Regions from separate parts of the Homo sapiens genome. Here region 2 is linked to region 1. Evidence: fine-mapped expression QTL. Tissue or cell type: whole blood. Region 1 holds a variant in brackets; the other region holds the start of a gene. All regions are shown on one strand. Distances are between the middles of the regions. Region 1 overlaps LOC105369850 (a long non-coding RNA gene). Region 2 holds the start of OSBPL8 (oxysterol binding protein like 8).

Region 1 (16,540 bases):
CAAAATATATTACAAAGCTACAGTAATTAATACAGTAGGTACTGGCATAAAGATAAACATAAACCAATGGGACAGGATAGAGAGCCTCAAAATAAATTCACACATACACAGTCAACACACCATTCTCCTGCCTCAGTCTCCCGAGTAGCTGAGACTACAGGTGCCTGCCAACATGCCCGGCTAATTTTTGTTTGTATTTTTAGTAGAGATGGGGTTTCACCGTGTTAGCCAGGATGGTCTCAATCTCCTGACCTCGTGATCCACCTGCCTCGGCCTCCCAAAGTGCTGGGATTACAGGTGTGAGCCACCGTGCCTGGCCATCTTTATTTATTTTTAATTAATTAATTAATTTTTTTGAGACAGAGTTTCACTCTGTCACTTAGGCTGGAGTGCAGTGGCACAATCTTGGTTCATTGCAAACTCTGCCTCCCAGGTTCAAGTGATTCTTCTGCCTCAGCCTCTCGAGTAGCTGGGATTACAAGTGCACGCCACTACGCGTAGCTAATTTTTGTATTTTTAGTAGAGATGGGATTTCGCTATGTTGGCCAGGCTGGTCTTGAACTCCTGACCTCAAGTGATCTGCCCACCTCAGCCTCCCAAAGTGCTGGGATTACAGGCATGAGCCATTGTCCCTGGTCTATTTTTAATTTTTTTTGAGAGACAGAATCTGACTCTGTTGCTCAGGCTGGAGTACAGTGGCACAATAATGGTTCACTGCAGCCTCGAACTCCTGAGTTCAAGGATCCTTCTGCCTCAGCGTCCCCAGTAACTATAATTACAGGCATGTGTCACCAGGTCCAGCTAATTTTTAAATTTTTTTGTGAAGATGGGGTCTCACTGTGTTGCTCAGACTGATTTTAAAGTCCTGGCCTCAAGTGATCCTCTCTTCTTGGCTTTCCAAAATGCTGGGATTACAGGCATCTGTACCTGGCCCAGTCAACAGGTTTTTGACAAGGGTGCCAAGATAACACAATGGGGAATAGATGTTATCCTAAACAAATGGTGCTGGGAAAACTGGATATCTATATGCAGAGAATGAAATTGGACCCTATACCTGTAATCCCAGCACTTTGGGAGGCCGAGGCAGATGGATCACAAGGTCAGGAGATTGAGATCAACCAGGCCAACATGGTGAAATCCCATCTCTACTAAAAATACAAAAATTAGCTGGGTGTGGTGGTGCATGCCTGTAGTCCCAGCTACTTGGGAAGCTGAGACAGGAGAATCGCTTGAACCCAGGAGGCAGAGGTTGCAGTGAGCTGAGATGGCGCCACTGCACTCCAGCCTGGTGACAGAGCAAGACTCCGTCTCAAAAAAAAAAAAAAGAAGAGAGAAAAGAAATTGGACCCTTATCTAACGCCATCCACAGAGTAAACTCCAAATGTGGTCTAAGTGGTGGTGCCTATAATCTCAGCTTCTTAGAAGGCTATGGCAGGCTGGGCACGGTGGCTCACGCCTGTAATCCCAGCACTTTTGGAGGCCGAGGTGGGCAGATCACCTGAGGCGGGAGTTTGAGACCAGCCTGACCAACATGGAGAAACCCCGTCTCTACTAAAAAATACAAAATTAGCTGGGTGTGGTGGCGCATGCCTGTAGTCCCAGCTGCTCGGGAGGCTGAGGCAGGAGAATCACTTGTACCCGGGAGGCAGAGGTAGCGGTGAGCCGAGATCGCGCCATTGCACTCCAGCCTGGGCGACAAGAACGAAACTCTGTCTCAAAAAAAAAAAAAAAAAAAGAAAAAGAAAAAAAAATAAGGCTATGCCAGGAAGATCAATTGAGCCCAAGAATTCAAGACCAGCCTGGGCAACATAGAAAGACCCAGTCTCTTAAAAAAATAAAAATAAAAATAGATTAGAAACATCAGACTCAAAATAGTAAAACTCCTAGAAGAAAACGTTAAAAGCTTCATGACTTTGGTCTTGGCAGTGATATTATGGATATGACACCAAATGCACAGGCAACAAAAGCAAAATAAACAATAGTCTGGATGTTCCTCAAAAAACTTAAAGTAGAACTACCATTTATCCAGCAATCTCCCTTCTAGGTCTTTGTCCAAAAGAATTGGAACCAAGATCTTAAAGAGATATTAGTACTCCTATTTTCATTGCAGCACTATTCATAATAACCAAAATGTGGAAATAAACTCAATGTTCATTGACAGATGAATGGATGAAGTGGGCAAATACATACAATAGAATACTATTCAGCCTTTAAAAAGAAGAATTTCTGCAATATGAGACAACATGGATGAACCTTGAGGACATCATGCTAAGTGAAATAAGCTAGTCACAGGAAGATAAATACTGCATGGTTCCACTTTTATGAGATATCTAAAATAATCAAATTCATAGAATCAATGAGTGAAATGGTAGTTTCCAAGGGCTGGGGGAAGGAGGAAATCGGAAGTTACTAATTAATGGGCATAAAGTTTCAGTGAAGCAAGGTAAATAAGCTCTAGAGATCTGCTGTGCAACATTGTACAATTTCAATAATGTATTATTTTCTTAAAAATTTGTTAAGAGAGTCCAGGTGTAGTGGCTCACGCCTGTAATCCCAGCACTTTGGGAGGCTGAGGCGGGCAGATCACGAGGTTAGGAGATCGAGACCATCCTGGCTAACACAGTGAAACCCCGTCTCTACTAAAAAATACAAAAAAAATGCCAGGTGCCTGTAGTCCCAGCTACTTGGGAGGCTGAGGCAGGAGAATCTCTTGAACCTGGGAGGCAGAGGTTGCAGTGAGCTGAGATTGTGCCACTGCACTCCAGCCTGGGTGACAGAGCGAGACTCCGTCTAAAAAAAAAAAAAAAAAATTTGTTAAAAGAGTAAATCTGCCAGGCGCGGTGGCTCATGCCTGTAATCCCAGCACTTTGGGAGGCCGAGGCTAGTGGATCACGAGGTCAGGAGTTCAAGACCATGCTGACCAACATGGTGAAACCCCGTCTCTACTAAAAACACAATAATTAGCTGGGCGTGGTGGCAGGCGCTTGTAGTCCCAGCTATGTGGGAGGCTGAGGCAGGAAAATTGCTTGAACCTGGGAGGCAGAGGTTGCAGTGATCCGAGATCGTGCCACTGCACTCCAGCCTGGGTGACAGAGTGAGACTCTGTCTCAAAAAAAGGAGAGTAGATCTCATGTTAAGTGTTCTTGCCACAAAACATGTTTTAAATATAAAAGGGAGGATAGTGCCTAAATCAAGAAACTTGAATTGACACAACTTATTCCAAAATCCCTGGGAGATTTCTACTTCTTTAAAAAGAAATGTGCTATCTGTAAGGTCACTCTTAGCTGCAAGAGAGACAGGATATTTTTAAGTTTACGTTGTCATCCAAACTTGAATTGGATTTCTGTTACTAAGGAAGAAGCAGAAAATGGATATTAAGCAGGTAATTTGTCATAGTCCATTCATTGGACTGTGAATGGCTTAACACACCATATTGTAAATATATTTTTTGAAATCTGTTTCTTTCCCTAGACTGTAAGATCAGGACTGATTTTTTTAAATGTCTGTATCCCCTCATTTGGCAAAGTATTTTGCACATAGTATATGCTAAGTATTTATACATGATTTGCTATTGAATGTTTCCTGTGGATTAGTTTATTATGAGTAAAAATTAGGAAAACTTTATTACCAGCAAAAAGTAGGGAGGAAGTTAGGAAAAATTATCACTAAAAATGTTAGCATATGTGACTTCTTCTTGATACTTTTAATTTTTGTACTAATTAATTGATTTTTAGTATATCATAAAAACCCTATTTCTTATATAATTATAAGGTAACTTCAGAACATAAAAACTTACAAGAATATCACAAGTATCTTAGTCCATTCATGCTGCTATAACAAAATACCATAGTGTGAGTGGCTTATAAAAAACAGAGATTTATTTTTCAAAGCTCTAGAGGCTAAGAAGTTTAAGATACGATACTGGCAGATGCAGTGTCTGGTAAGGGTCTACTTCCTCATAGACAGCTGTCTTCTCATTCTAACCTCACACGGTGGAAGGGCTGAGGGTTCTCTCTCAGGCCCATTTTATAATGGCAGTAATCTTATTAATGAGGGAAATAACCCTATAATCTAATAATATCCCAAATGCCCCGCCTCCCAATACCATCATTTTGGAGGTGAGGAGTTCAACATTTGAATTTTGGGGGAACATAAACATTCAGACCACAAGAACAATAATTTATTTGTTTATATTAAAAGGAACCATCTTCTCTGCCTCACAGTTTTCCTACCTGGCTCTTAAAATAGAAATATGTTTCTTTCAGAACTATAGAGTCAAGAGGAAATTTCATCTTTCTTTCTGCCACTTTCCCCAAGTGGAAGGAGTTTTGTATTTAATTGGTGATTTGGGGAGAAAAACATAAAACCCAAGCCATTTCTTGCCATCTTTTTCAAATCTTCCCACCCACAAGAAATTATATTCTGCTCAGTTCCTCAATATATGTCATAAACTAAAAACACACGGATTAGGGCCTATGCTTGTCTTCTAGAACAGGCCTGAGGCCTAACTCTCATTCTTTCTACTGTTGATCTCACCAAGCAGAAACAGTGATTCTACACAAGTCTATCCATCGTGCAGACTCAAATTCTCCTGTGGCGAGTCATCACCCATTTGGACTTAGGAAGTATTTGACCAGCTTGGCCAACATGGTGAAACCCCGTCTCTACCAAAAATACAAAAATTAGCTGGGCATGGTGGCAGGTGCCTGTAATCCCAGCTACTCGGGAGGCTGAGGCAGGAGAATTGCTTGAACCCAGGAGGCAGAGGTTGCAGTGAGCTGAGATCACGCCACTGCACTCCAGCCTGGGTGACAGAGTGAGACTCCGTCTAAAAAAAAAAAAAAGAAATATTGAAAAACCTGGTCATGGTTGTATATTATAATACATCCAATCAGCTTTATCTTAGGAAGCTTTTTTGAAATGAAGTCTCACTCTGTCACCCAGGCTGGAGTGCAATGGCATAATATCACTGCTCACTGCAGCCTCTACCTCCTTGGCTCAAGCGATCCTCCTACCTCAGTCTCCCAAGTAGCTGGGACTACAGACATATGCCACATGCCTGGCTAATTTTTCAAACATTTTGTAGAGATGGAGTCTCCCTATGCTAGGCTGATCTTGAACTCCTGGACTCAAGCAACTCTCCCACCTCGGCCTTCTGAAGTGCTGGGCTTATAGTCATGAGCCACCATGCCAAGCCGAGAAGTTGGTATTTTATCTTTTTGGCTTCCTATCAATTGGGTCTGAATTCAGGGAAGAGTTAAGATGTGTGAGCAGCTATCACTGCCTAAGCCCCATTAATGACAGGATAGTAATACATTTTTTAATAGGTAACTCTAACCAAAAGTAGTTGTTTTATGAGAACCTAGGTCTAGCAAAAGAAATAAACTTAAATCTTGCCAGTCTAACAATAAGGGAATAAAATATCCCAGCAGCCAAGTGTGGCAGCTTATGTCTGTAATCCCAGTATCTTGGGAGTCCGACACAGGAGGATTGCTTGAGCCCAGGAGGTCAAGGCTAAAGTGAGCCTTGGTTGTAGCACCATGTTAAAGCCTGGGTGACAGAGTGAGACCCTGTCTCAAAAAAAAAAAATTTTTTTTGTTTATTTATGAATGCCTACTGTGTGCAAGGCAGTGTTCAGAGGAGAAGTTTAAAGAGTTAGAATACTAATACTTTAAACAAAAGTTACCTGGTACTCTAATTTTATTGTTTGAGTTTTGAATTGCTATAATGATCAAGGCAAAGAAATATCATAATTATAACATTTGAGTGCTTATGGCTTGTCAAATGAGCAGTTTCCTGCGAAACAATATCTGATTGAATCCTCAAAACAACTCTGTGAGACAATACATGAGAATAGTCTAGGTTGTGCTGCAGTTGGGAGAAAAAGCAAATGTTTAACAAAAAGTTAGCTCTGGCTGCAGGCAACTCTCCAGGCAACTGTCTTCCATGCAACAACGTGATAATCCAGGCAGCTTCAACCTTGTGGTGCTGCCATCTTAAGATGAATCTTTTTCCATGGTTGCCACAGTCGGGAAAGAAAAAAATTTCATATCGACCTTTTACTGCCACATCCTGAAGGTGACACACGTAAAATCTACAGTTTTCACTGGCCAGACCAAGTCACATGGCTCCATTCAGTTGTAGGGTCGCTGAGGAATACAGTCAATCCACTGAGTGGCCAGAAAGGAAAGAGAAGTAAATATTGATTAACAAAGCAATATGTAGCATAAATAGCTATTATGACTGTTGTTTTTATATAG[G/A]TGAAGAAATGTAGGCTTAGAAAAATTAAGTTATTCATCCAAAGGTACATATAAGGTAAGTAGGGGAGCCTCAGCATATGGACCTATCTGACTCCAGAGCCTGTGCCTAACTTCTATCTTCCATTACCTCCCAGCACCGCACTGGAAGCCTGGCAGAACCTAGCCACCACTAGGGATATTTAATTCAATTCATATACATTCAGTTCAATTCAAATCAGCATATATTTGCTAAATGCTTTCTCTTTGCCAGGCATTGCAGCTGCATCTGGAGGAGGGTTGAGCTATTTCACCATATAGATCTCCTACGACTTTGAGACTGTGATGTAAAGAAATAGGCAACTGTGATGGTTATTTTATTTGACAACTTGGCTGGGCTGTGGTACCCAGATATTTGGTTAAACGTTATTCTGGATGTTTTGGTGAAGGTGTTTTTGGATGAGATTAACATTTTAACCAGTGGATTTTAAGTAAAGCAGATTACTTTCCATAATATGGACGGGCCTCATCAATCGGTTGAAGGCCTTCATAAATCAAAGACTGACCTCCCCAGAGAAGGAAGGAATTCTGCCAGCAGGTTGCCTTTGGACTCAAGCAGAAACTGAGTCCCCACAATCATGTGTGCCAATTCCTTAAAATAAACATCTATATCTATAATATCTATATGTATACACATTCTGTTGGTTTGGTTTCTCTGGACAACCCTAACTAATATAACAAGCTTAAAAATTAGTTCTATAAAACAGGGCTAAGAAATGATTCTTTATTATACTTTAAGAACAAGATCCTCTGCAATCCCTATTTACTTTTATCTTTGAATGTTAAGTAAAAATAGCAGAATTCTAAAATAACCTACAGAAATAAGTCAAGATTCATTATATTTTCTATAATACAAGAAGTTTTACAAAGCTATTCATCATAAAATACATAAATTTTTGCAAGGAACCTTGTGGACTGAAAAAACAGCCAAAACAAATCTGCCACATACAGGCCCCAGAATGTGGTTTTATAATCTGTCCACTTAGGAAACTGTTCCAATTATCTTCACAAATTCAGTATTGTGAGAATGTGTCTAGGTGTTAATTATCATTTTAGAAGGAAGTCAGCTCTCCTACACAGCTAAGAATGCTAACAGTCTCCAATTTTAACTTGTTCTCTTATACAAGATGCTGTTTTGGGAAGTATTTAGTTGCCCCCTGCTGGCCATACAATTGCAGGATTCATTTTTTAAAAAGTTCTCAGTAGATTGCAGATGATAATGATAAACTTCTGAAGAGATGCATTCAACTTTTTCATCAGATGAATTCACAATAGACTTCCAATGCTCAATTGAGATACGTAAGTTAATAAAAAAAATTTTTTTCCCCACCACCTGGTATAGGGTGAAATGTTCCAGCAGGAAGACTTTAAGCTAGATCAGTGGGAGAACAGGATGAGATGTAGGAGGAGTGACTGAGGGGCTTCACAGGCTCCCTTTCTTCTTTAACTTTTGTTTTAGGTTGAGGAGTACATGTGCACGTTTGTTATATAGGTAAACTCATGTCATGGGGGTTTGTTTTACAGATTATTTCGTTACCCTGGTACTAAGCCTAGTACCCAGAAGTTATTTTTTCTGCTCCTCTCTCTTCTCTCACCCTCCACCCTCAAGTAGGCCCCAGTGTCTGTTTTTCCCCTGTTTGTGTCCATGAGTTCTCATCATTTAGCTCTCACTTATAAGTGAGAACATGCAGTATTTGGTTTTCTGTTCCTGTGTTAGTTTGGTAAGGCTAATGGCCTCCAGCTCAATCCATGTTCCCACAAAAGACATGATCTCATTCTTTTTTATGGCTGCATAGTATTCCATGGTGTCTATGTACCACATTTTCTTTATTCAGTCTACCATTGATGGGCATTTAGACTGATTCCATGTCTTTGCTATTGTGAATAGTGCTGCCCAAAATTCCTAAACACAATTTTCTTTCTATAATACTCATGTCATATTTTATGTCTCTTCATATCCTTTTTAAAACCATATGGAAATAATTTACCAAATTGAGAGGAAAAAAACACTTGTTCAAGAAGCTTAAAAACTATATTTTTATCCTGTCTCTGCTACTAACTCTCAGGCTAATCTTGAGCAAGACTCTTTAACTTTTGGCAGTGATAAATATGTTTACAAATTTTGATTTTCATTCCCGAAAGTTTCTTCATGCTATTTTGTAATTTCTTCTTCCTGCCACTCTTGGGACTTTCCCATCCTCAAGTTACCACTGATCCACTCTCTGTCACTGCAGATTAATTTGCATTTTCTTGATAAGAAAATTATTTTATTTTATTTATTTATTTTTGTTTTGAAACAGAGTTTCGCTCTTTTTGTCCAGGCTGGAGTGCAATGGCGTGATCTCAGCTCACTGCAACCTCTGCCTCCCAGATTCAAGTGACTCTCCTGCCTCAGCCTCCCAAGTAGCTGGGATTACAGGCACGTGCCAACATGCCTGGCTAATTTTGTATTTTTAGTAGAGATGGGGTTTCATCATGTTGGCCAGGCTGGTCTCAAACTCCTGACCTCAGGTGATCTGCTAGCCTCGGCCTCCCAAAGTGCTGCGATTACAGGCATGAGCCACCATGCCTGGCCGAAGAAAATAATTTTTAAGCTTACTAGCTAAGACACTTTATAAAATGAGATATGGAAAAAATGTAAATGCTTTATAAATATTTTTAAAAATTGAGTTTCCCTATCTTGAAACCTGAGGTGCAGTGTGATGCAGTGGTTAAAAGCTTAACCTTGGGGCCAGGCACGGTGGCTCACACCTGTAATCCCAGCACTTTGGGAGACTGAGGCAGATGGATCACCTGAGTTCAGGAGTTCGAGACCAGCCTGGCCAACATGGTGAGACCCCATCTCTACTAAAAATTTAAAAATTAGCCAGGCATGGGGGTGCATGCCTGCAATCTCAACTACTTGGGAGGCTGAGGCAGAATAATTGCTTGAACCTGGGAGACAGAGGTTGCAGTAAGCTTAGATAGCACCACTGGAAAAAAAAAAAAAAAGCAAAAAGCTTAAACTTTTAAGCCAGCAAATGCGGGCCTAGGTCTTGGGTCTTGGCTCTGTTATTTACTAGCTGTATGATGTTGGGCAAGTTACTCAACACCCTGAGGTTAACAGTTTCCCCATGCTTAGAGAAACAGATAATAATAGCATCTATCCTCATAAAGATGTTGTGCAATTGCATACAAAACACTTAGCTCAGTGCTGGGCCTGTACATAAAAAACCTCAGGGTTGACTACCAATGGTAGTCATCTATCTTTAGACATTTCAAAGAGCATCACCTTAATTCTAAGAAAAGGAAATGAGAAATGAGAACCCTGGCCATGCAGCCAGTGCAATCCTAAGGCAATCATTTTAGAAATGTTTTGTGAGGATTATCATAGTTCACTGTGTCAGACATGGTATCCAGCTGACTCTGACTCAAGCCCTTTTCTTAAGCACCCCATTGGTTTTCTTTCCTCATAACTCTTTCTCCAAGTGTCATGGTATCCCTTTCTTTGTAATTCCATTCCTCCCCCTCAAACATATGACCTGACAGTCATCTCATTTCACCTTTGTGATTTGACATATAACTTGGCCAGAGCAGAGTGATAGTCATCACTTGAGATGGCAGGCATGGTGGAAATAGAGATAATTGAAGAAACAAGGCTTATTTGTGAAAAATGTTCTTTAATAGTTTTATCCCTTGTATTCAAGTACTTCTGTTGCTCTTTTTTGAGCTCTGCCAGGTTTACACTTATTAAATTTCTCTCCCTACAATGGAAACTACTTGAACCCCACTTGCCAGCCTAGCCCAATTTAGTATCTTGGGCCAATTCTAATTTTATGAAAGAGAGAGTTAAGATGCTGTATCTTGAGATTTGCATAGAGAAAGCACCTTTAGCATGCTTTCTTCCATGAACTTTTAGCACTGCCTCATTATAGTGTAGAGAAATATATGGGTAGGGGGTAATTAATTTCTGAGGAGGAGAACCTCCTGCCTACCATCCCTCCTAACTTGTAGCATACCATTTATACAAGTTTATTCTCTTCTGCTATCTTAGCCTGGCTTCTTCCCTGAAATCGGAGTCTGAGACAATAACTTCTGTGCGGATAGTTGATTTTGGGAAGAGATCCCAGTGAATAGGAGTGAGGGGCTAGGAAAATTAAGACATGAAAGGAAGGAAAGCTAACTCAAGAATACATTAATCAATCTGAACATTGTTGTAGGTAACTCAGGCTCATTTCTCTGGATCTTTGAATAGCTACCTAGAATTGTCTGCCTTCCCCCAATGTGGCAGACATATCCTAAGGTAACCCCCAATGATCTCTGCCTTCTGGTATTAATGACCTTCTTTATGCCCCTCACCGTAAGACTGGGTAGAACTTGTGAACTGCTTCCAGCCAGAAGAATAAGGCAAAGGTGATAGGATGTTACTCCCATGATGTAATGTAATACATGCATTACAATATATGACAAATGTGATGGGATATCACTCCCATGATTATGTTATATTATGTAAGAATCTGTCTTGATAGCCGACTCACTCTCTCACTTTCCTGCTGGTCTTGAAGAAACAAGTTGTCATGTTATGAACTGCCTATCGGAGAGGACCATGTGGCAAAGAACTCAGAGGTGGCTTGTAGAAGCTGAGAGCCAACAGAAACAAAACAAAACAAAATCTTGAAGCTCTCAGTCCTGTGACTGTAAGGAAATGAATTCTCCCAACAACTTGAGAGAGTTTGGAAGAAGATTCTTCTTTCTTCAGGCTTTCAGATGGGAACATGGTCCAACCAACACCTTCACTGTAGCCTGGAGAGACCCCAAAGTAGAAAACCCAACTAAGGTGTATCTGGACTCCTGACCTACAGAAAGAGAGATAGTAAATGTGTGTTATTTTAATGTGTTCAACTTGTGTTAATTTGTTACATCGAATTGGAAAACTAATAGAGATTTTGGTGCCTAGAGGTAGAATGCTACTGTAATAAATATGTAAAAATATGTCTGTGGCTTTGAAACTGATCAGTGGACAGAGACTAGAAGAATGCTTGAAAAGTATGATAGACAAATCCCAAATCACTGCGAACAAACTCTCAGTAGAAATGTGGATATTGAAGACTGCTGTTGAGGACTCAGAAGGAAGTAAGGAACATGCTATAGGAAACTGGAAGAAGGGAGATCCTTGTTATGTACTGGCGTAAAGCTTAGTGAAATTATTTCTTGCAATTACGTTGAAAGCAGAACTTGTAAATGGATGAATTTGGTTATATAGTTAAGGAGATTTCCAAGCAAAGTGTTGAAGGGGACAACTGGTTTCTTCTTGCTACTTACAGGAAAATTCAAGAAAAGAGACAAATTGAGAGAAGAACTATTAAGCAAAAAGGAATCAGGACTTGATAATTTAAAAAATCCTCATCTTCCCCAGATGGCAAAAAATATTAACAGTTGGAGATGGCTTTTGGGCACTGTCAGAAAAGCCTACTCTAGAGAAAATGCACTTGAAGTTACTCTATAATCTTTTTTAAAGCCCCCAAAAGATCAAAGGTCAGAGTACTCAGGGGTATTTCAAGATACGGCCCTTAGATTTGAAAAGATCTAAGGGTATGCCTCAGATCCTCTCAATCACACTATTGAGCCTCTAGGAAGCTTAAAGGAGATGGAATTATTTTTGAAACAATCTGTAGATGTGGCCTTTGTCTGATAAGAGTGAATGCCACTGAAATACAGAAAGAACCACAACATTCTTGAGAAAATTATTTCTGCAGAAACAGTGCCAACTTGGAATAAGACAGACAGAAAGACTAGAAAATGAAAAGAGGCTGTCAGACCTCCAAAATTTTACTGGCAGAAAGCAGGCTGATAAAACTACTCATCTGCAAACACATGCTACCTTCCATGAAAAAGGAAGAATGACTCAGATGGTGGAACCAAGAACCCAGAAAGCAGAGCCAAGAGCCATGAAGAATCATTCCCAAGCCTAGAAACTTAATTAAGGAACTTCCAATAAATCCAGTTGTATTTCAAAACTGCTATAGACTAGTGACTCCTTTTTACTACCCATTTCCCCTATTTTTAAACTGGAATGTCTATAGCTATTATCCTGTGTCTGTCCCACCATTGTATGTTGGGTGTGTTGGAGGCAGATAACTCATTTCCTTGGTTTCAGAGGTCCATAGTTAGAGAATAATTGTGTCCAGGAGCTTTACTTAACAGGTTATACGTAGGAGGCTCATCTGCACCTGGACTTGATTCACATGATGAAATTTTAGAATTTGAGCTGATGCTATAATGAATGAAACTCTTGGGAACTGATATGGTTTGTCTCTGTGTCCCCACCCAAATCTCATCTTGAATTGTACTCCCACAATTCCCATGGGTTGTGGGAGGGGCCCTGGTGGGAGATAATTTGAATTATGGGGGAGGTTCCCCCATACTGTTCTCATGGTAGCAAATAAGTCTCACGATATCTGATGGTTTTATCAGGGGTTTTATCAGGGGTTTCCACTTCTGCATCTTCTTCATTTTCTCTTGCCGCCGCCATGTAAGAAGTACCTTTCACCTCTCAGCATGATTCTGAGGCCTCCCCAGCCATGTAAGTCCAATTAAACCTCTTTTTCTTCCCAGTCTCAGGTATGTCTTTATCAGCAGTGTGAAAACGGACTAATACAGGAACCTTGGAAGGGGAGAAACCATATATTTCATATGGGAGGGCCTGAGGAAAGACTGGCAGACAGAACCTAGGCTGATTCTCCAATGACCCCCACTTTCTGATATCAATGCCCCTGTTAATTACATCCCATGAATATGGGAGGAATCTGTGAAGCATCTAACTTATAGAATATGGCAAAGGTGACAGAATGGCATTCCTATGATAACATTATGTTATGTAAGACTTCATATTGCTAGTAGACTCTTCTGCTGGCCATGAAGAAGCAAACTGCTATGTTGCTGCCTATGGAGTAGACCACATGGCAGGCAACTTGAATGGACTCTAGGAGCTAATGGCATCCTCCAGCTGACAGCCAACCAGCACACTGAAGCTTTCAGTCCTATATCCTCAATGAAATAAATTCGTTCGGCAAACCATATGAGCTTGGGAGCAGATGAGCTTCCCAATGAGAACACAGCCCACCTGATGCATTGACTCTAGCCTGGAGAGACCTGGAAGCAGAAAATCCAAATAAGCTGTGTCTGTACTCTTGACCACAGAAACTGGGATATAATACATGTTATTGTTTTAGGCTGCTAGATTTGGTAACTTGTTATCCAGCAATAGATTACAAGTGCAGTCAAAGATTGTCCCAGAGAGTGTTAACTTCTTTACTCTTCCAGGTTGTACATGCCTAAGCGCAGAGTGGGTTCTCATTGGCATCCATGCCATATCATCAGAGCAGCACAGGTTTTGAAATGATAAATATGTGGTACAGTTGCACAAAACTGGTTGCCATAGCAATAGTTGGTATAAAAGGTAGGCTGAAAGGATGTGAAAAAGATTATTCTAGTTTGTCTCATCCTGGCTACCATTTCAGGGAGTCTGTGTTGCTTGACTGGGTGGGGGCAACCAGATCATCATCTCTGAAGGGTCTGAACTCTAATTCTTGCTCTTCAGTGAGTCTTAATTATTACAATTACCCATTTATACTTATCACCAGACATGGAGCACGAAGAAATAACTCAGTGAATCCTATGTGTTCCATGCATCGGACTTCCTGTCTCCATTGGGTAGCAGCAACTCTATTTCATATGGGTAATCAAGGTCAGTTATCACCACCAAGATAGTAAGTGTTTTCATTGATGGTCCACTGACACAAGTGATCTAAAATGATCATGTGATAGTTATAGTTTCCAGTTCAATGGAGACTTCATGTGTGCCCTCATAGAAGTCCCCTTCATACCAAACAAGTGCTTCTAATCCTGAAAAGCCTAAGAATGCACAGATAGGAAGCCCAAATTCTGCAAAGGGGTCAATGGGAGTGTTGGTGAGAGCCATTCCTACAACCACCCTTTGGTTTCTGGACCTGTATATTCTGGCTATTGGAAACACACCACTAGAAATCAGCTATACTTTTTTTTTTTTTTTTTTTTTTTTTGAGATGGAGTCTCACTCTGTCACTTAGGCCGGAGTGCAGTGGTGCAATCTCAGCTCACTGCAGCCTACACCTCCCGGGTTCCAGCGATTCTCCTGCCTCAGCCTCCTGGGTAGCTGGGATTACAAGCACACGCCACCGCACCCAGCTAATTTTTGTATTTTTAGTAGAGAAAAGGTTTCACCATGTTGGCCAGGCTGGTCTCAAACTCCTGACCTCAGGTGATCTGCCCGCCTTGGCCTCCCAAAGTGCTAGAATTACAGGCGTGAGCCACTGTGCCCAGCCATCAGCTATACATTTAATGCACCTATCTTATTCTTGAGAACAATACCCTATCCTTTTGAAGTGTTAGTCCTGCATGGGTTCCTTGGCTAAGTCTTTATTAGATTATTTTATTGTTCCATTAGGATGGCCAATTTCATGTTTATGCCCCATTATTACACCTATTTTATCATAAAATGGGCTCTTTGATATAAAAAAATAGGTAGAATTCAATGCCAGTAAATCAGGCATTCAGTAAGTTCTTGTACGGTGGGTGGTGCTGACAAAGGTACCTACAACAGTGAAGAAAAATGCATACCCATAATAGGTATCAATTCTGATAAGTACAATTTGCTATCCCCTCCAGGGTTGAAAGAGTCCAATATAATCAATTTCCCACTGAATGGTTGACTAGCCTTCTTAAGGGATGGTGCCATAATGAAGACTTAGCATTTATCTTTGCTGCTAATAGACTGGACAAGCAGCAGTGGCCCAGGAGAGAGGGAGTTCATGCTATTGGATCATTCACAGCCTTTATCCCTGCCACCATGGCCATGTAATTATCATAGGCCCATTGTGTAAACACAGATATTGCTGAGAAGAGAGACTGAATGATTTCTACTAGACAAGTCCTGTCTACTTGGTTGTTTAGTGCTTTCTCTGCAGTATAGGCTCTCTGATAGGCATTGAGGTAGCACACAAATTTCTGCACACTTTGAGCCTACTCCAGTGGTCTACCCATACATTTATTCCTTGGATATTTTTATTTCCCATCTTCCAGTCTTTCTCCTCTAGGCCTGTCTGACTAACCAACCAAGCCAATTGCCATCATTCAAAGGTCCATGTACATCTATACATCAGGCCTTTTCTTCCTTTATAGAAAGTAGTTGATCAGGTACACTGCTTACAGATCTGCAGTTGAGAGAATTTCCCTTCAAGAATACCCTTAAGTAGGGTGGTTGTGTAGCAGCAGTCCATTTGGAGTTAGCACCAACAGATTGAGATGAACTTTCTGTGATTAAGATTCCATGCGCTATTTTGCAACATCATGCATTTAGTCATTTGGAAAATAGTGCTTCATTGAGTTATGCATATCTTCCAAGTGCTGACAGATTTCATGTTGAAATACCCCAAAAAAATCACATGTGTTATTGTCACCACTGATCTCATCAGAAAATTTTTGAAGAATCAAGAAGCTGCCAAATTCATAGAGGTAGATATGAGTTTTAAAAAATTCTAAATTTTGTTTGAAAGCTCAAATGTTATCATTGGCAACAAACGCTGTGAGTTGTTTTCCTTGAAGTGACGGGATCACTTATTTTTGAGAAAAGTTCTGACACATACCTAAGTCTGAATAACTATAGTTTATCTGTCTGTCATTCTTTCAAGTAAAGATAATTTTCCATGTAAAATAGTGGCTTAACTCACGACTCAAGCACAAAAATCATTTTCTTTGAGATAACCTTAGAACTTTGGTGTGCAACAGGAATACATTATGCATTTTGTCTCACAGAATTTTAAAACATACATAATCAAGGGTTGAGATTTAATAAAATTAATCATGCTATTTTATCAAGAATAATATTAAATGAAACTGTCTTGCTTTTCTGGGATATAGCAGTAAATAATTCAATGTCTACTAGTACACTTTTGGTACCACTGCCTTAATTTCTGTTAAAGCACCAACAATTTTACCCACCATTGCCTTTGTTTCATAGTGCAAATGTCAACTCACTGAGAAAGCCAAGTAATGTCTTGGTATTATTGTAAAAATAGTTTTGATCTTGTATATACTTGAAAGGATCTGGGAAATTCCCTGGGGTCTGCAGACCACATTTTATGAACCATGGTCAAGAGAAAAATCTGAGTCCTATGTGGTAGCAATCCACTTTTCACACAATTTGCCCCTCTGAGAAGAGTCTGTGC
Region 2 (16,540 bases), 27 kb before region 1:
CACTAGTGAAAAACTAGTGGCAGGCACAGTGGCTCACACCTGTAATGCCAGCACTTTGGGAGGCTGAGGCGGGCAGATCGCTTGAACTCAGCAGTTAGAGACCAGCCTGGGCAACATGGTGAAACCCCATCTCTACCAAAAATACAAAAAATTTGCCAGGCACGGTGGCACATCCCTGTAGTACCAGCTACTCGGAAGGCTAAGGCACAAGAATCACTTGAGCCCAGGAGGCGAAGGTTGCAGTGAGCCAAGATCCTGCCACTGCACTCTGGCCTGAGCAACAGAGCGATACCCCATGTCTCCAAAAAAAAAAAAAAAAAAAAAAAAAAAATGTTGCAAGCAAGAGGGAGCACAAATTTTTGTGGGCAATGAAATGAATCTGCCCTTCCCACAACCTCTGTCTACTACATGGTCCCTCCCTCACAATAGCAGCCTAATGACAGGCTTCCTGGCTCTCACTCTACTAACTTCTATTTCCTTCACTAGTCATATGTGAGAACATCCAGATCTCTTTCAGACCATGTAAGAACCATGGAAAACTCACAGAGTGCTATCTCTGGCCCCCTCTCTGCTTAAATATGCCATTTTCTTCCCTTTTGGCCACCCCAAGTCAGCATAGGGCCAGTGCAATAGGCTAGTAAGTGGCTGTACCAGTTCTGAACTTTGGCAGTCTGGCTCCAGGGTTCGTGCTATTCTGCCTCTCCAGATTTCTAAAATAGGTGATAAGACAGAGCACTTCCATTACTACCAATGGATATTTGTAAAGCACCTACATCTTGCAAAACAGCCTAGAACTATTACAAACTCCACACTATGATGCACAGCACTGCTTTTCTTTACTTCCAAATTGCTGATCTTACAAGTTATTATAATCATAACAATGCACAAAATTACACACTAAGCAAAGCTAGTCTCCAGAAGTCCCTCATCCTACTCTCCACTTGAACAATGTACCTGTGCCCTCACATCCAAAGCACCCCACCTCATTACTCTACCCGGTAATAATGTTACTTAGATTGAACTTCTCTCTCTCCAGATCTACCATACTTCCATCCCATCAAAATATACCAACATAGATTCCATAATTTCCACATGGGCCCCAGCCTTCCTTGTAAAAAATTATGTAATCTGACAAACTATTCCTGCTAATATGTAGGCATTTGGCAGCCAAAAAGCAAAAATTACCTTACTGGTGGTCATCTCAACAGGACAGATTTCAACTGTACAGATCTGTGTCCCTCAAATATCACTAAATAGGCCTGGCATGGCAGCTCACATCTATAATCCCAGCACTTTGGGAGACCAAGGTGGGAGAATCATTTGAGGCTAGGGGTTCAAGACCAAGCTGGGCAACATAGTGAGACTCTGTTTCTAAAAAAAAAAAAAAAAACTTAAAAATTAGCCAGGTGTGATGGTATTCGCCTGTAGTCCCAGCTACTTGGGAGGCAGAGACAGGAGGATCACTTGAGCCTGGGAGGTCGAGGCTGCAGTGAGCCATGGTAGTGAGTGCCACTGCACTCCAGCCTAGGTGACAGCTCAAGACCCTGTATCAGAAGAAAAAAAAAAAAGGCCAGAGGAGGTAGCTCACGCCTGTAATCTCAACACTTTGGGAGGACGAGGCAGGTGGATCACTTTACGTCAGGAGTTCGAGAACAGCCTGGCCAATATGGTGAAACCCCATCTCTACTAAAAATACAAAAAATTAGCTGGGCATGGTGGCATGCACCCGTAATCCCAGCTACTCAGGAGGCTCAGGCATGAGAATCACTTGAAACCGGGAGGCAGAGGTTGCAGTGAGCCAAGATCACACTACTGCACTCCAGCCTAGGTGACACAGTGAGACTCTATCTCAAAAAAAAAAAAAAAAAAACACTAAAAAAAAATGCATACCAATTCTGTGAATCAGCCTTATTCTTTAAAACTATTTTTTAATTATAACAACTTAGCTTTAAATACTGTTATCTATTATGTTCTTTAATTTCCAGTTACTCCGAAATTCTCTGAAATTCCCCAGTGAGAAAATGGCAACTGGATGAACAATAAAATAAATATTTGCTTTACTCTAAGTATTTTTAAGATTTAAAAATAGGATGTCAGTCAAATACAAGTAAAATGAGAGAAAAAAAATCAAGGCTATATTCCATCTTCTTATAAAGTAAAGTGCATTTTGTAAATGACACAACTAAAACAGACTCAGGAAGATCACAAGGTCAAGACGTATCAAGAGGAGCAACTGCAAATAAATTATACAAGGCAGTATATAATATGATGGTTAAAAGGATAGGCTCCAAAGTCAAAGGTCAGGTTAAACCTCAAGTTTAAATCCTTTTAGTAGGCTCTACCACCTACTACTTAACTTCTCTGTGCCTCAGGTTTAGTTCAAATCCTGGCTCCACCACTTATTTAATCTGTCAGTTGCTCAGGTTTAAAAAAAAGAAAATAGCCTGATTGCGGGGTGGTTGTCAGGATCAAATGTGATGACATGTCAAGTACTTCTAGAGTAGTACAGTACCTGGTATATAGCAGTTGACGCACATTAGCTATTAATATGACCTATAACAATTTCCCTCTGAATCTATCAAGTTTTCAAAAACTCTAAATCAAAAAGCTTCTCCTTTTTATTTGAAAAAAGTCAAGCTCTGAAACCATTTCCTCTTTTTTTCAGTCCTTTTTGAATATGGAAATTAGTAGGTAACTGGCTTATCATTTGATGACTCTTCTTAGTCTTTGTATAATAAAAAGGCTCAAGACTCTTCTTAGTCTTTTTATAATAAAATTCTCTTCCAAATATTATACAAAGGACAGACTGCTCCATGGATCAAAAACACTACAAAGAGTTCACAAAGTATAATGAAATTCTGAGATTCATAAATGAACAGCTACTGGCACAAAAAGCTTAGATAAGAAATAATGCAGATGTCTGTTTGTTTGCTCAAGAAATACTGAATTTTATAATAAAACACAGATGGTAGAGATCTTCATGGCTTATAGTCACATCACTAAAAACAGAAAATATTTTTGGTAAATTTTTTCTTAACAACCAGAAAACCCCTTATTTCATCACAACAATGAATAGATAAATGACATTACAGGCAAAGACAATTTCTTCAAAAACAAATTACGTAGAGAAAAAAAGCTTAAAGGCTCAGATTTTCAGCTACACATATCCCTTACTTTGAGCTTCAAAAATTTGAGGCTTCTAGCACTCCTTGTGGTCTGTAACATTAAGCAGTAATACAATTAGGCCTCATTTCTACCAGAAAACATTAAACTGACTGAAAGAAAATTATCTAGAATTTTGATTCTGATCAATTTAAACATAATGCCATGAGTCATCTAGATGAGTCAAGCAAATATTAGAGTTCATGATAAACGAATCAAAATATGTTTTAAAGATCTGCAGACAAACGTTTTAATAATTTTGTATTTGCTGAAGTCCTCCTATGTGTGACACATTGAGGTAGGCACATTCATATTGAGGTATGCACTTTCACATGCATTATATAACTTTGTTCTCCCAACGATCATGGATTATTATCCTGATTTTACAAATGAGAAAACTAAGACCAAGTGATTGGCCGATGGAAACGACGCTTGTATAAGATTCAGTCAGAACACCAATTCAAATTTTCTGACCCTTATCGTACTTCCAAAACTCAAGTACTGTCAATCTCTGCTGTTGCAAAGCAAGTTAATCTTTTTATTTAGGGAGAGGTGAAAATAGAGATGGGAGAATAAAAATTCTTCATAATGTTACAAAAAAAGACTTACTGTGCTTTATCTGACATAATTTATTCAGTCTGACTTAAATGCTTTGCTGCACGTTGTCTACCCCCTTAGACACTGCTTATCTTCAGACACACAGCCCACACCAAAACCTAACTCAAGAATCACCTCCTCCAAGAAAGTTTCCCAGATTAAATGACCTGTTCCCCTTCTCCCAAGCTAACATCCTTCCTTTATCATTTCGCTGCTTGCATTTAGTTTGGACTACATTATCAGATACTCCTTTTGTTCTCCAGTCATATATCTGGAAGTAGACTTTTTTCATTCATTAACTATTGAACATTTGGAGATTCAATGGTGAGCAAAACAGACAAGGTCCTTGCTATCATGGAGAATTTACATTATCTGGATCTTCGACAAAGGTAAAAATAACAGGGTATAAGAATATGATGCTCTAGGACTAGGATTTCTTCCCTATAAGGTCTCCGAAAATAGCTCTCTCCCTTGCAAGCTTGATAACACTTTTCAGGAAGAAAAATTCCTTCTATCACGCCTTCCACATGAGAATTTTATGACTTTGTGAGGATATGTGAGGGATGGGGACCAAGGTGGGAAGAAAGATCTAAAATCTCTCAGGGGTTTCCCACATACTGCCATGAAATATGCACACAACATGAGTCTAGACATCTCTTCCTGTGTCTCATCACAAGGAAGCTATACTTTGGCCACAACTGCTCCAGTCAAGCACTTCTACTAATCTCCTTGTACCCAGCCACCTTCACTAAAAATTGTATATTTCTCAGAGGCTTTTTGTTTTTTTGGTGTTTTTTGAGACTGAGTCTTGCTCTATCGCCCAGGCTGGAGTGCAATGGCATGATCTTGGCTCGTTGCAATCTCTGTCTCCTGGGTTCATGCGATTCTCCTGCCTCAGCCTCCCAAGTAGCTGGGATTACAGGCACACACTGCCACGCCCAGCTAATTTTTTTGTATTTTTAGTAGAGACGGGGTTTCACCATGTTGGCCAGGCGGGTCTTGAACTTCTGACCTCATGATCTGCCCACCTCAGCCTCCCAAAGTGCTAGCATTACAGGCGTGAGCCACCGGGCCTGGCCTCTCAAAGGCTTTTTTATTCAAGTTGTGTTTCTGTCTTATTTGCAGGTCATTATTTGTAAGATTAAGGCAGGACCTATGTCCTCTTTGAATTGCCTGATGCTCCAAGAACATTGCTATAAATGTTTTTAACTTTCAATATAATACAAACATTACAACATGACATTTCAGGCATTGTTATTAGGATAATATTAGGATAAAAGTTTTCCAAATTAATATTAGAAAACTAGATCTATGTACTGTATCAATTCTTTGTCTTTAATGCCTTAATTCAAGTAATCTACTTTTGAAGGATTATTTACAAACCAAAGCCAAGTTGAAATGTACTAACACTGGTTAAAATTCTGCAATTCATACTTTTAAACAAAAGATCCGCCAGACACAGTGGCTCATGACTGTAATCCCAGCACTTTGGGAGGCTGAGGCGGGCGGATCTTGAGGCCAGGAGTTGGAGACCAGCCTGGCCAACATGGTGAAACCCCATCTCTAATAAAAATACAAAAATTAGCCTGGCATGGTGGCACGCACCTGTAATCCCAGCTACTCAGGAGGCTGAAGCATAAGAATCTCTTGAACCCAGGTGGCAGAAGCTGCAGTGAGCCAAGTTGCACCACTGCACTCCAGCCTGGGATACAGAGTGAGACAGTCTTAAAAAAAAAAAAAAAAAAAATCCTTTTGTAATGCATATTTTACAAATTCATAATTTCATCATTTTTCTTAAAGCAAACTAAAACATAAATTCATTATACACAATTGTAAATTTATCCCCAAAGTGTTTTCTAAGGCTTCCAATTTTTAAATGAACCAAGGAACTGAATATTGACAAATGTATAAGTACCCTGAATGTGTTATAAAAAACATATTTGACTGTCTTTAAAATGCAGTAACATTCTAAGGAAAATACAGTAGCATCTTTCCACAGATCAGAGATTCAATAACTATTATGATTCAATCAAAGAGAAATAAACCATGGCCATTTTTAATTAAACAGGCATTTCTAAGCACCTGTGTACACGGTATTGCTGTTCAAACGGTTGACATGGAATGTGACCGCAATAACTTGATGTCCATAATTAAAGACCCAAAAGGTAGCTTAAGTTTCATCTATTTCCTTTCTCAGCCCTTTGAGCAGGTATATTATAGTCACTCCATACACGGTTAATATTAAAAAAAAATAAAAGTAACAAACATTTGAAATTAGTTGTACTTTTATAGAGAACAGTTTTAAATTGCATGGCCTTACTTTTCCTATTCCAACCTATTTTATAAAACTAGCATGATCTTAATAATTTCACTGCAAAACAGGTTCTAGCAAGCATAGAAACTGATCATAGCCTCTCAGCAAAATCAAGTTTAGATGAAACTCTAGGAAATTAGCAAAATTTAACAATCAATTCACCCACGATTCTCCACAATTCTTGCTCTCTCTAGATACGAAGGGAGGCAAAAACTGTTTTAAAGGATTATTTCAAAAGCAGCACTAATTTTGGGAAAAACTTAACTGCCATGCAGGAGACACTGTATTACTACTCAGACGTCATTTAAGTCTTCTAGCAGCAGAAAGGCAAAAACATCATTAAATTTTTTATTTAATGCATATATACTTACATTATCAGTTAAAGTTTACCCATCTGTTTACGTTGTCCAAGTTACCTATTATTTCAGAAAGCATTTAAATAAAATGAAATTAGGTTACGTTCTGCAACGCAGATGTGTCTCATAAAGAAGAGTGTTAAATGACTTTTGTGAATGGAAAATCTGCATATACTGTTGCTTCGCCTCAGCCAGTCTTGAGTGGGTGGTTCAATGAACCTAAAGCATGCTGCCTGTGAAGCTCCTTGGAACCTGATTCCACTCTTGAGAGAGGGCTTAGAAACAAACATTAAATTTAAAAGCACAGCAAAGGCTTGGCTTTCCTCCTACGTTACAAGAAGGCCGGGAGAACTGAGGCTTAGAGGAACAACACCGTGTCGCTTGGCTCTGCAAAGGCGGGTGCGGTCTGCGGTGCGCGGCACAGCCTTCTCTGGGGCTGTCACAGGAAAGAAGGAGCCTCGCCTTAACCGCACCGAGCGACAAAGCGCCAGCTCTCCTGGGCGCGGGGGCTCCCAACGAGGCCCATGCCATCAACCTATCAAACTTCAGGAGGGACAGACACCCGGGGCGGTCGAAATGCTCCAACAGCCTCCCACCCCCGTTCCCCTGCCGCGGCTTTTGTAAGGCTGCAGATGCACCTACTGTGGGCCCCTAAACACTCCACCCTGCCAGCCTTTCCAATCCCCCTACTCCAAAAGGGAACAAAGGAGCCAAAGAACTCCTCGGCGGGGGTGGCCAGGAGTCCCCGACAGCCCGAGCTCAGAACGTGGCAATAAGGGTGCGCAGTCGCCCTGAGGGGTGCGAACCCAGCACCCCAACCTCAGGAATGGAGCAACACTCACCCGTGCGGAGCTCCCAGGGAGGCGGGACGCAAGGAGCCGGTTCCTCCGAGGTCGCCGCGGCGCCGGGGTCCGAGGCCCCGTAAGCGTCTAGTCAGACCCCAACTTCTCTCGGCCGCTGTCGTCGGCGGCAGCTGGGGCGCGAGCCTGGACGAAGGGCGCTGCCCAGCGGCCGCGGAGGCACTGCCGGCTCAGCCCCCGAGCGGGGCGGGAACTTTCGGCCCCGAGGTCCACCAGCCCGGGCGGACCCCCACCTTCCCTCAGTCGGCTTGCTACCGGCAGCGGCTACTGCGGCGTCCAAAGCTAACACTACAGCCGCCGCCTGGCCAGGAGCGCGTCGCGGCCTAATGTTGTCATCCGCCGCGTCGCCGCCTTTCTGGGCACCCAGAACCGCGAAGATCCTTCACATTCTAGTGCCCTCCCCCTGCCCCGCCCGCCCCCCGGATCACGGGCTTCGGCCACGCCCTCTTCCCGTCACGTGACGGTGCGCGGAGGCGGTGGTGGAGTTGCTTCCCCTGCTAGGCGGGCTCGAACCGGGCGGGAGTCACTGTCCACCTTGCTTCGCCAGGGTGTTATCGCCAGCCAGTCCCCTTCCGCATGCCCAAGGGCAGCCTCAGGAAGCGAGCCCACCACCGTCGGCCCAGCGCCTGTTGATCGGCCAGGCCTTCTGGGCCGGTCATACTGGGCCCTTCCTAACCTGAGGAGATTGCACAGTAGGGCTCCCTGGTCTGGTCAGGGCTCAGTTAGGACCCCTCTCCAGCCTTAGGCTTGGTGAAAGCTTTAGCGAAACAGAAAAAAGAACGCATCGTGGTGTAGAGTGTATGGCCTAAGAAGCATTCGGTAACTAAACTACTTGTTCCTATTTCTAGTGGCACATTAACCGTGGCATTTAATTTACTGCTTTCCTCATTAGAGGTTTTTTTTTTTTTGAGGAAACGGTGTATTTCAATCATGCTGGGATGAAAACAGCCTAGCAAACTTATTTTTGTTCCTTGTTATGTTCAGGATCCTGCTGCCAGTTTTACAGTCATTAAGTTTTACAGTGTGTTAGGTTGGTGACAGTTTAAACGGGTACGCAGGAATTTGACAGTTTGTTCCATTTTTTAAAATAAAGCCTAATTCTTGATTTTTTTTCTAATGCCTTAATTTTTTTTTCCTAATTCCTTAACTCTAGGACTTAACCTTTTGCTTTCTTTTTTAGCCATGATCCGAAGAACCCTCTAGCCGCCTAATGAAATCCTAACTATACAGAAGTAAGGGAGGTAGAATAAAGATCATACTCAAACCCTGATCACAATGAAGGCAAATGAGAAAGCTTTCTGTAATAATTAAATTGGGGTCATAACTCATTTTCCCTTGTAGCCCAGAACTAAGGATTTTTTTCTTAAGCTATTCTCATCTCATTACATTTTCTTAACAAGAAATCAGAAGGCATTCTGATAAGCTGGATACATTGAAATGAATAAGCAATAGAGTTTGGCCTATATAATTATTATTAATATATTTCATAGCAGCTCTAAAAAAATCATAGACTTACATTGTTTTATGTTACCCAAGAAAGAAAACAAAGGCTGCCAATGAAACTATGCCATACCGCTGATATGTAAGGCACCTTTAAGCCACATCTTTTTCCTTTTTTTTTTGAGACAGGGTCTCACTCTGTCTCCCAGACTGGAGTGCAGAGGCGCAATCTCGGCCCACTGCAATTTCCGCCTCCCGGTTCAAGCGATTCTCCTCCCTTAGCCTCCCAAGGAGCTGAGATTACAGGCATGCGCCACCATGCCCAGCTAATTTTTGTATTTTTAGTAGAGAGGAGGTTTCACCATTTTGGCAAGGCTGGTGTTGAACTCGTGACCTCAAATGATTCACCCGCCTCGACCTCCCAAAATGCTGGGATTACAGGCATGAGCCACCGCGCCCGGCCTGAGACACATCTTGAATTCAGAGATGTAAACATGTCAGAAACAACGAGTCTTAGAATCTCTGAGATATTGTCATGAACTGGGAAACAACGAGTCTTAGAATCTCTGAGATATTGTCATGAACTGGGAAACAACGAGTCTTAGAATCTCTGAGATATTGTCATGAACTGGTGTTCCAAAGAGGAAAAGATTCTACCAGGTTCTGTTCTGAAGCCTGAGAGACTGTAGTACAAATAAATGTGAAGGAAGTTTATTATTCTGTGACATTATTTCAGCAAAGCTAGTAACTTTGGAGTTTGTTAACAGATTAACTTGTCTCCTGTTTTCTAGAGGCATGTTTTTCAACCTGCAACTCAAAAATCAATTTCATTTTTATATGAAATAGGCTAGGATGTAATACAATATAAAATACCAGAGTGCATAATGTCTAGTAAGGGCAAAAATTGCTTCCTGAAACTTTTTGTTTCAAATATGGTGGAAGGTGAGAGTATGTCCTATGTTGTGATTTAAACAATTTCTTACTGTGAGTTGCAATCAAATAGATTTGGAAAAGAATGTTCCTAGAGCATAGATAATATGCAAAATACACCATCTGGACCCCGTTTTTCTGGTACTTTTATTTTACTTTGGAAACTGAGACTAAAGATTAGAAAAAGGTGGCAAATTGCCTTGCCTAATTCTCTTCTGCCTCAGCCCCAATTTCATACATTGGCTTTTGAAAATTTGATCATTTGTTGGAAAAAGCAATGTACTGGAAGCAAGGAAGCCTAGGTTACAGACTTAGCTAATGAGATGTATGACTAGATAAATTACTCCCTGCATTTCAAGTTCCAATCAAGTAGGACCACATGCTGTTTGAGAAATGATACTAAACCACCTTTTTTTTTTCCCGGTGGATGGCAATCACATTGGAAACAAACAGACACGGTATACTCAGGATTATGCAAATTACTGACAGCCTACGTTTAACTTCTTTCAGCTCCACTCAAAAAAAAGAAAGTCCTAATGCAAGTAATTGAAAGTGAAGATATTGCAAAACAAATGTAAGTATATCTTTCACAATCTTCTCTACTTTGATTATCACTAGTATAATAGTTACTTGTCATGAATAACTAATGATTTTGACATACTTAACAACTGATTGCAACACAAAAATATATTAATCCACTACAGTTGAAAAATCATTTTTTCAGATCCTTTCAAATCTGATATTGTGATTCCAGGAATGATAATTCAATCTAGCATTTTCAATGTAATGACAACATAAACAGAAACTAATATGTGATCCTGCACTGTAACTGAAAAATATTCAGTAACTCCCAGAGATGCCCTGCAAGTTTGCTACTCTTACAATGATTTTAAGAATGACATTTTGAAATAAAGCTTTTTTATTATAACGATCCGATTTTAACTCCAATGAGAATTCATCTCTTTTGCCTACTGCTTTATTAATTATACATTTCTAAGAATGGGAAGTTCTTTCCAAATTAGTTTAAGCACTGACAGGCTTGACAGCCTTTCCCACAGTATATTTCAACCCTGACCTAGAATGACAGAGATGTTGCTTGAGGTTGTTTGCTTTTTTCCATTTGGCTTATCCCATTAGACAATTATGTTGCTGACAATTACTAATCAGGATTCTAGACTAAAATCCTCATTTTCTGGAAGAGAATTTAGATTAAGAGCAACCTCAGCCATAAATAAGGTATTCAACACAGCTTTGAAGACTTGTATTCTTGTTGGTCATGTGATTTGCTTTAGCCAGTGCTTTGTGAGCAGATGTTAAATGCTAAATCAAAGCAGAGGCTTTAAATTTGATTGCAAAATTCAGGTCAATCTCTTACTCTTGTGCCACCTGCCATGAGAAAGGTATGTTCCAGATAAGATCTCAGAATAAGAAAATAGATGGAGCAGACCTGAAACTCTCACCCTGTACAGAACTGAAGCAACTGACTTGCAGCTCCTGACATACGGCTACTGATGTGAAACAAGAGTAAAACAAAAATATTTGTTGTTGTGAATCACAAATATTTTTGAGATTGTTTGTTGCGTAGCATAATCTTGCAAATCATCTAAAGTGAATTTGAGCCAACAAACTCATGAGTCAAAGGCTAAATGTACTGTGGAACAATAATATTTGTCTATTTAATAAAATAAATAACAGACATCTACAAACTAGTCAACCAGCTATTTGGTAAATATCCACCTAAAATTTATGTTAAGAAGCAGTCTTTATAAAATCTGTAAATTTGCATGCAAAATGTTTGCATGTAAGATATTTACATACTGATTTTAAATATTTCTGTTTAGTATTATTTGTCTTAAATATCCCTTGAGGAAAATTTGGATAGTAAAGTATAAAGAGAATATAGGATTCTGTTTCTAGAAATATCAAGGACTAGTTCACACTTGTCACACTGAAAACAAAATCCCTGGAAAAAACATTTTTTAAATCTTATTAAATATATTGATTAACTGACAATAGGGTAAGAAATTATTAAGTTAAAAAACTAAATGAAGGCAGGAACCTAGAGTTTAGCAGAGTCAGCCAACTTTTATCTCAAGGGCATGTGCTAAACCCAGTTACTAGGAGCATTGGTTTTCGTGACCTTGTAAGAAAGACACAAAACCCATTACCTGCATTATACACACACACACACACACACACACACACACACACACACAAACAACTGCAATTCCAAGGATTATTAATTTGATGTAAGGATATACTAGAAATAAACTTGCTGCTTACTAGCATAGGCACCCATCCCCCAGAATCTACAAAGAAAATTAGCCGTCTTAAACCTTGGCACCTGGTGGACAGGGGAAAAGCAAAATCGTATCTGAGAATTTGGAACTGCAATCCAATTCTCACACAAAAACGTAGCTTGAATTCATACTAGCTGGGTGGTCCCCAAAAACTTCAGGCTAATAATTAAGATTTTTTTTTTTTTTTTTTTTTAGACAGGGATTCTCTGTCGCCCTGGCTGGAGTGCAGTGGCATGATCTCAGCTCACTGCAACCTCCGCCTCCCAGGTTCAAGCAATTCTCCTGCCTCACCCTCCCGAGTAGCTGGGACTACAGGCACGTGCCACCACGCCCAGCTAATTTTTTTATTTTTAGTAGAGACAGGGGTTTCACCATGTTGGCTAGGCTGGTCTCGAACTCCTGACCTCGGGTAATCCGCCCACCTCCGCCTCCCAAAGTGCTGGGATTATAGGCATGAGCCACTGTACCTAGGCGTAATTATGAATTTTTGACTGATAATGCTCTCAGAAACCTGGCAGAAGCAAATACCAATCCTCTCTGGAGGAACCCACCTTCATCTTAAGCCATAAAGAATGACTATAAATAAAATTTTAAGGAAAATGAGCAGCTCACATTTAAAAAAAAATAACAAGCACAGAATAAGACACCATTCGTGAGAAACAGTACAGACTTAAGACAGCACAAACAAATTTTAAAAGACTTCAGATCCTGGATTTACAAGTCACGGACTGGGCCAGGTGTGGTGGCTCATGCCTGTAATCCCAGCACTTTGGAAGGTCAAGGCAGGCAGATCACTTGAGGTCAGGTGTTTGAGCCCAGCCTAGCCAACATGGTTAAACCCCCATCTCTACTAAAAATACAAAAATTTCGCCTGTAATCCCAGCTACTGGGAAGGCTGAGGCAGGAGAATCGCTTGAACCCGGGAGGTGAAGGTTGCAGTGAGCCAAGATCGCGCCACTGCACTCCGGCCTGGGCGACAGTGAGACTCCACCTCAAAAAAAAAAAAAAAAGGGGTCACAGACTGTAAATAACAATATTAAATATGAGTAAAGGAATAAAAGACAAGTTTGAAAATATGTGCAGAGAACAAAAAACTAAAGTAGGAATGAAGATTTTGAAAAAAGCAAATAGAACTAAAAGAGTTGAAAAACATAAATGATTAGAATAAAAACTCAGTGGACAAATTTAGTAGTTCATTTGACACAGCAGAAATACAAGCCAATGAAATGGAAGATAAAGATGAAGTTAAATGCAATAAAAAAAGAAAACATAAATTAAAAATATAAAAGAGACTTTAAGTGACATGGAGGACATTGTAAACAGCTCTAAAATCTAATTATGACTTCAGATGAAAAGGAAAGAGCCAGTGGGCCAGAGGCAGTATTTGACAAGATAATGGTTGTGAACTTTCCAGAACTGATGAAAGACTCCAACTCACAGACTTAAGAAGCCTCCCAAATCCCAAGCAAGTTAAAGAATAATAAAACCACGCTGAGATATATCACAGTGAAACTGTAGAACACCAAAAACAAAAAAGAAAACCTTAAAAGCAACAAAGAAAAAATATAGTTAATCTTCAAAGTGTCAGGTAAATGACTTTTCATCAGAACCAGTGAAAAACAGAAGACAGTGGAATAATATCTTCAGTGGACTAAAAGAAAATGACTGTCAGCCTAGAATTCAGTACCCAGTGAAAAAATTATTTCAAGAATGAGGCCAAAATAAAGGAATTTTCCGGCAAGCAAAAGCAGAATTTGCCGCTAATAGAGTCTCGCTAAAGGAAAGTCTAAAGAAATTTCTTTTTTCAGACAAAAAGAAAATGATCCCAGGCCAGGCACAGTGGCTCACGCCTGTAAATCACAGCACTTTGGGAGGCTGAGGCAGGAGGATCACAGGAGTTTGAGACCAGCCTGGACAACATATTGAGATTTTATCTCTACAAAAAATTTAAAAGTTAGCTGGGCATGGTAATGTGTGCCTGTGGTCCTGACCCGGGAGGCTGAGGTAGGAGGACTGCTTGAGCCCGGGAGATCAAGGCTGCAGTGAGACATGATCACACCATTATACTCCAGCCTGGGTAATAGAGAGAGATCCTGTCTCAAAAAAAAAAAAAAGAAGAAGAAGAAGAAAATCAACTCAAATGGAAGGTCTGAGAGTTGATAATAAACGAAGAGCATTAAGAGTGGTAGATATTTGCCTAAATCTAAATACAATTGACAATGCAAACAAACAGTAAGTATTGTTAAAATTATTTTAATAAGTTTTTTTAAAGAAAAAAAAATCACATATCTAACATTAGAAATAGACCCAACCAAATTTGCATTTTATGCCTACTATTAGACCTCATTAGACAAAGTATTTTACAAACTAGTACTATTATCTCCATCTGATACATACCTTTTATTTTAAAAGCAAAAACATGATACATTTCTTCTTTTCTCATCCATAGAGGCAAATTGTATTAATATATTATTGGTATTCTCTTTTTAAATAACAGCATTTTAAGTGTTTTTCTTCACAATGACATTCTTATTTCAAATTTACATAATGTACCAGTGAAGATGATGTATTACATAATTAGACTAAGAAAGTAGCATATATTTAGGAGATCATGATTTAGAGTAATAAAAAGCAGAATTATATACTATTTTCACTTAACTATGAAGTATTAATGATTCCCTCCATAGAAGTCTATAAATGAAAGTTCATCATAACAAATTATATAATTATGTATTCACAGGTTAAAGACAATTAAGTCTTATTGAAATGCTCTGCCTACCCTTTCCACCCACGTTGCCTATTCAAAATTATGTGCATGCTATGACTTTTAACACCATCTTGGGAAATAGCTAGAAATTTGTGCGCAGGTATAAGGATTGACTACTGAGTTTTAACTCAATTCAGAGGACATCCTAAATTCAAAATAAATTCTAATAATAATAAGAACCCATTTCTGATAGCTACTTAGACTACAAATTTCCAATTGTAAATGTGTTTTTCATTTCAATTTTAGGAGAGTGTTTTTTTTTTAAGTTTATCATGACTATTTAAACATGGGAAGCTTAGAACACATAATCCCTTAGATTTCCAAATCTGTAAGTATAATGCAAATGAATTATACCTTACTTTTTTTAAACCAGAACCTTTCTCTTTTTTCCCCTCAACCACGAGATCATTCAAAGTATATTTACTTATATACTACTTTGTTTTTGTTTTAGAATCAGGGTCTCACTCTGTCACCCAGGCTGAAGTGCAGTGGCGTGCATTACAGCCTCGAACTCCTGGGTTCAAGTGATCTCCCTCCTCAGCCTCCTGAGTCACTGGGATTACAGGCATGAACCACCACACCCTAGAATATTTTCTTGATAAAACCAAATCTATAATTTTATAGAAGACTGTCCAAATGACTTTTATTTATATCTCTTAATATATGTAAAAGTGTATACATTACTAGTATTCCTATTAGCTACTAGATTGCTAGCTAATTACAAGATTATTCCAGTTAGCTTTGTCCAGCCTGTATTTATACAAGTATATGAAACTCTTGAGAAGTCACAGTAATTAAATTTTCATAAACCAGGTTGTATATTAATTCTTTCAATTTAATAAGTTATCAGTTTGTACTGGGTCCTACACTTACTTACAAAAAAAAATTATCAAGTATCTGTATGTTGTTCTACCTCTTTCCTGAAATGAGTGTAAAGCTAACAAGAGTCCTCACCCTATAAACCAGCAGTATTTCAAAACTCATTGTTACTGTTCTGGGAGTGAAGGTGCCGTATATTCTTACCGCATTATCAGGTAGCAACCATCTACTCAATCCTCCCAACCACAGGTACTACCTAGATGTCTTTTGCCAGATCTCCCAGGTATTTAGTGCCTCTTTTACCTCTACAGAACACTGGTACCCAGAAGTGATATGGTGGAAAAAGAAGGCGCCTACCCTATATTCCAATAAAGTCTGTCCACTACATTCCTGTCACGTTCATTCCTCTGTTCTAGGCCCTGTTGATATTCTCCCCTAGTTGTTTCCAGTCCATTTCTATGGGAGCCTTACTTTTGTCTGGTATTCTTACATGCACAGCTGAGACCAGACTCCCAGTCTCATTCCCTTAATTGTATCCTTTAATCCTTAATCCCTGTAATATCCTCCTGGAACTGGGATTGATATACCTCTATTGAAGACTTTATCTTTGAATGTCAGCTCACTTCCAGACATGGCCACCAACTCCACCCCATGATCGCACATTGTTATACTCCCCACTTCCTTCTGCAGTCAGCAAATAGACTTGGACCTGACATTCTTTGTGTCCTAAGCCCCCCACCCCTTCCTTAAGTTACTAAAGTAGTACACCAAAAGAATACAATTATCTGAACTGAGGGCGGGGAAAATTCCAGAGAAAAATGACCTTCGTGCAACAAACAAAGGCAAGAGAGTAAAAGGGAGGGCACTGTTAGAGATTTAAAATAGACTTACCAGATATATCAACCAAGTGCAATACGTGGATCTTTACCTTTATCAGATTCCAATTCAAACAACTTATAAAAAGATATAATGAGACAATCAGGAAAATTTTAATA

Evidence for each region.
Region 2: it holds the start of OSBPL8, and the variant in region 1 is fine-mapped to the expression of OSBPL8 in whole blood (TOPMed, PIP 0.98).

Annotation. Positions count from the first base shown.
Region 1 is chr12:76,579,541-76,596,080 of GRCh38, forward strand. All of the region lies in intron 3 of LOC105369850 (a long non-coding RNA gene), which reads left to right. Among named protein-coding and RNA genes, the nearest start is that of OSBPL8, 28 kb to the left of the region's middle. RefSeq lists silencers at 4,465-4,665, 9,615-9,815. The variant G/A (reference allele first, on the strand shown) is at 6,261.
Region 2 is chr12:76,552,126-76,568,665 of GRCh38, forward strand. It overlaps OSBPL8 (oxysterol binding protein like 8), which reads right to left and starts at 7,646. Exons shown (of 24, transcript NM_020841.5): 1 at 7,272-7,646. LOC105369850 (a long non-coding RNA gene) reads left to right here and starts at 7,777. Exons shown (of 4, transcript NR_188081.1): 1 at 7,777-8,108; 2 at 10,170-10,233. RefSeq lists an enhancer at 6,567-6,876 and a silencer at 7,287-7,476.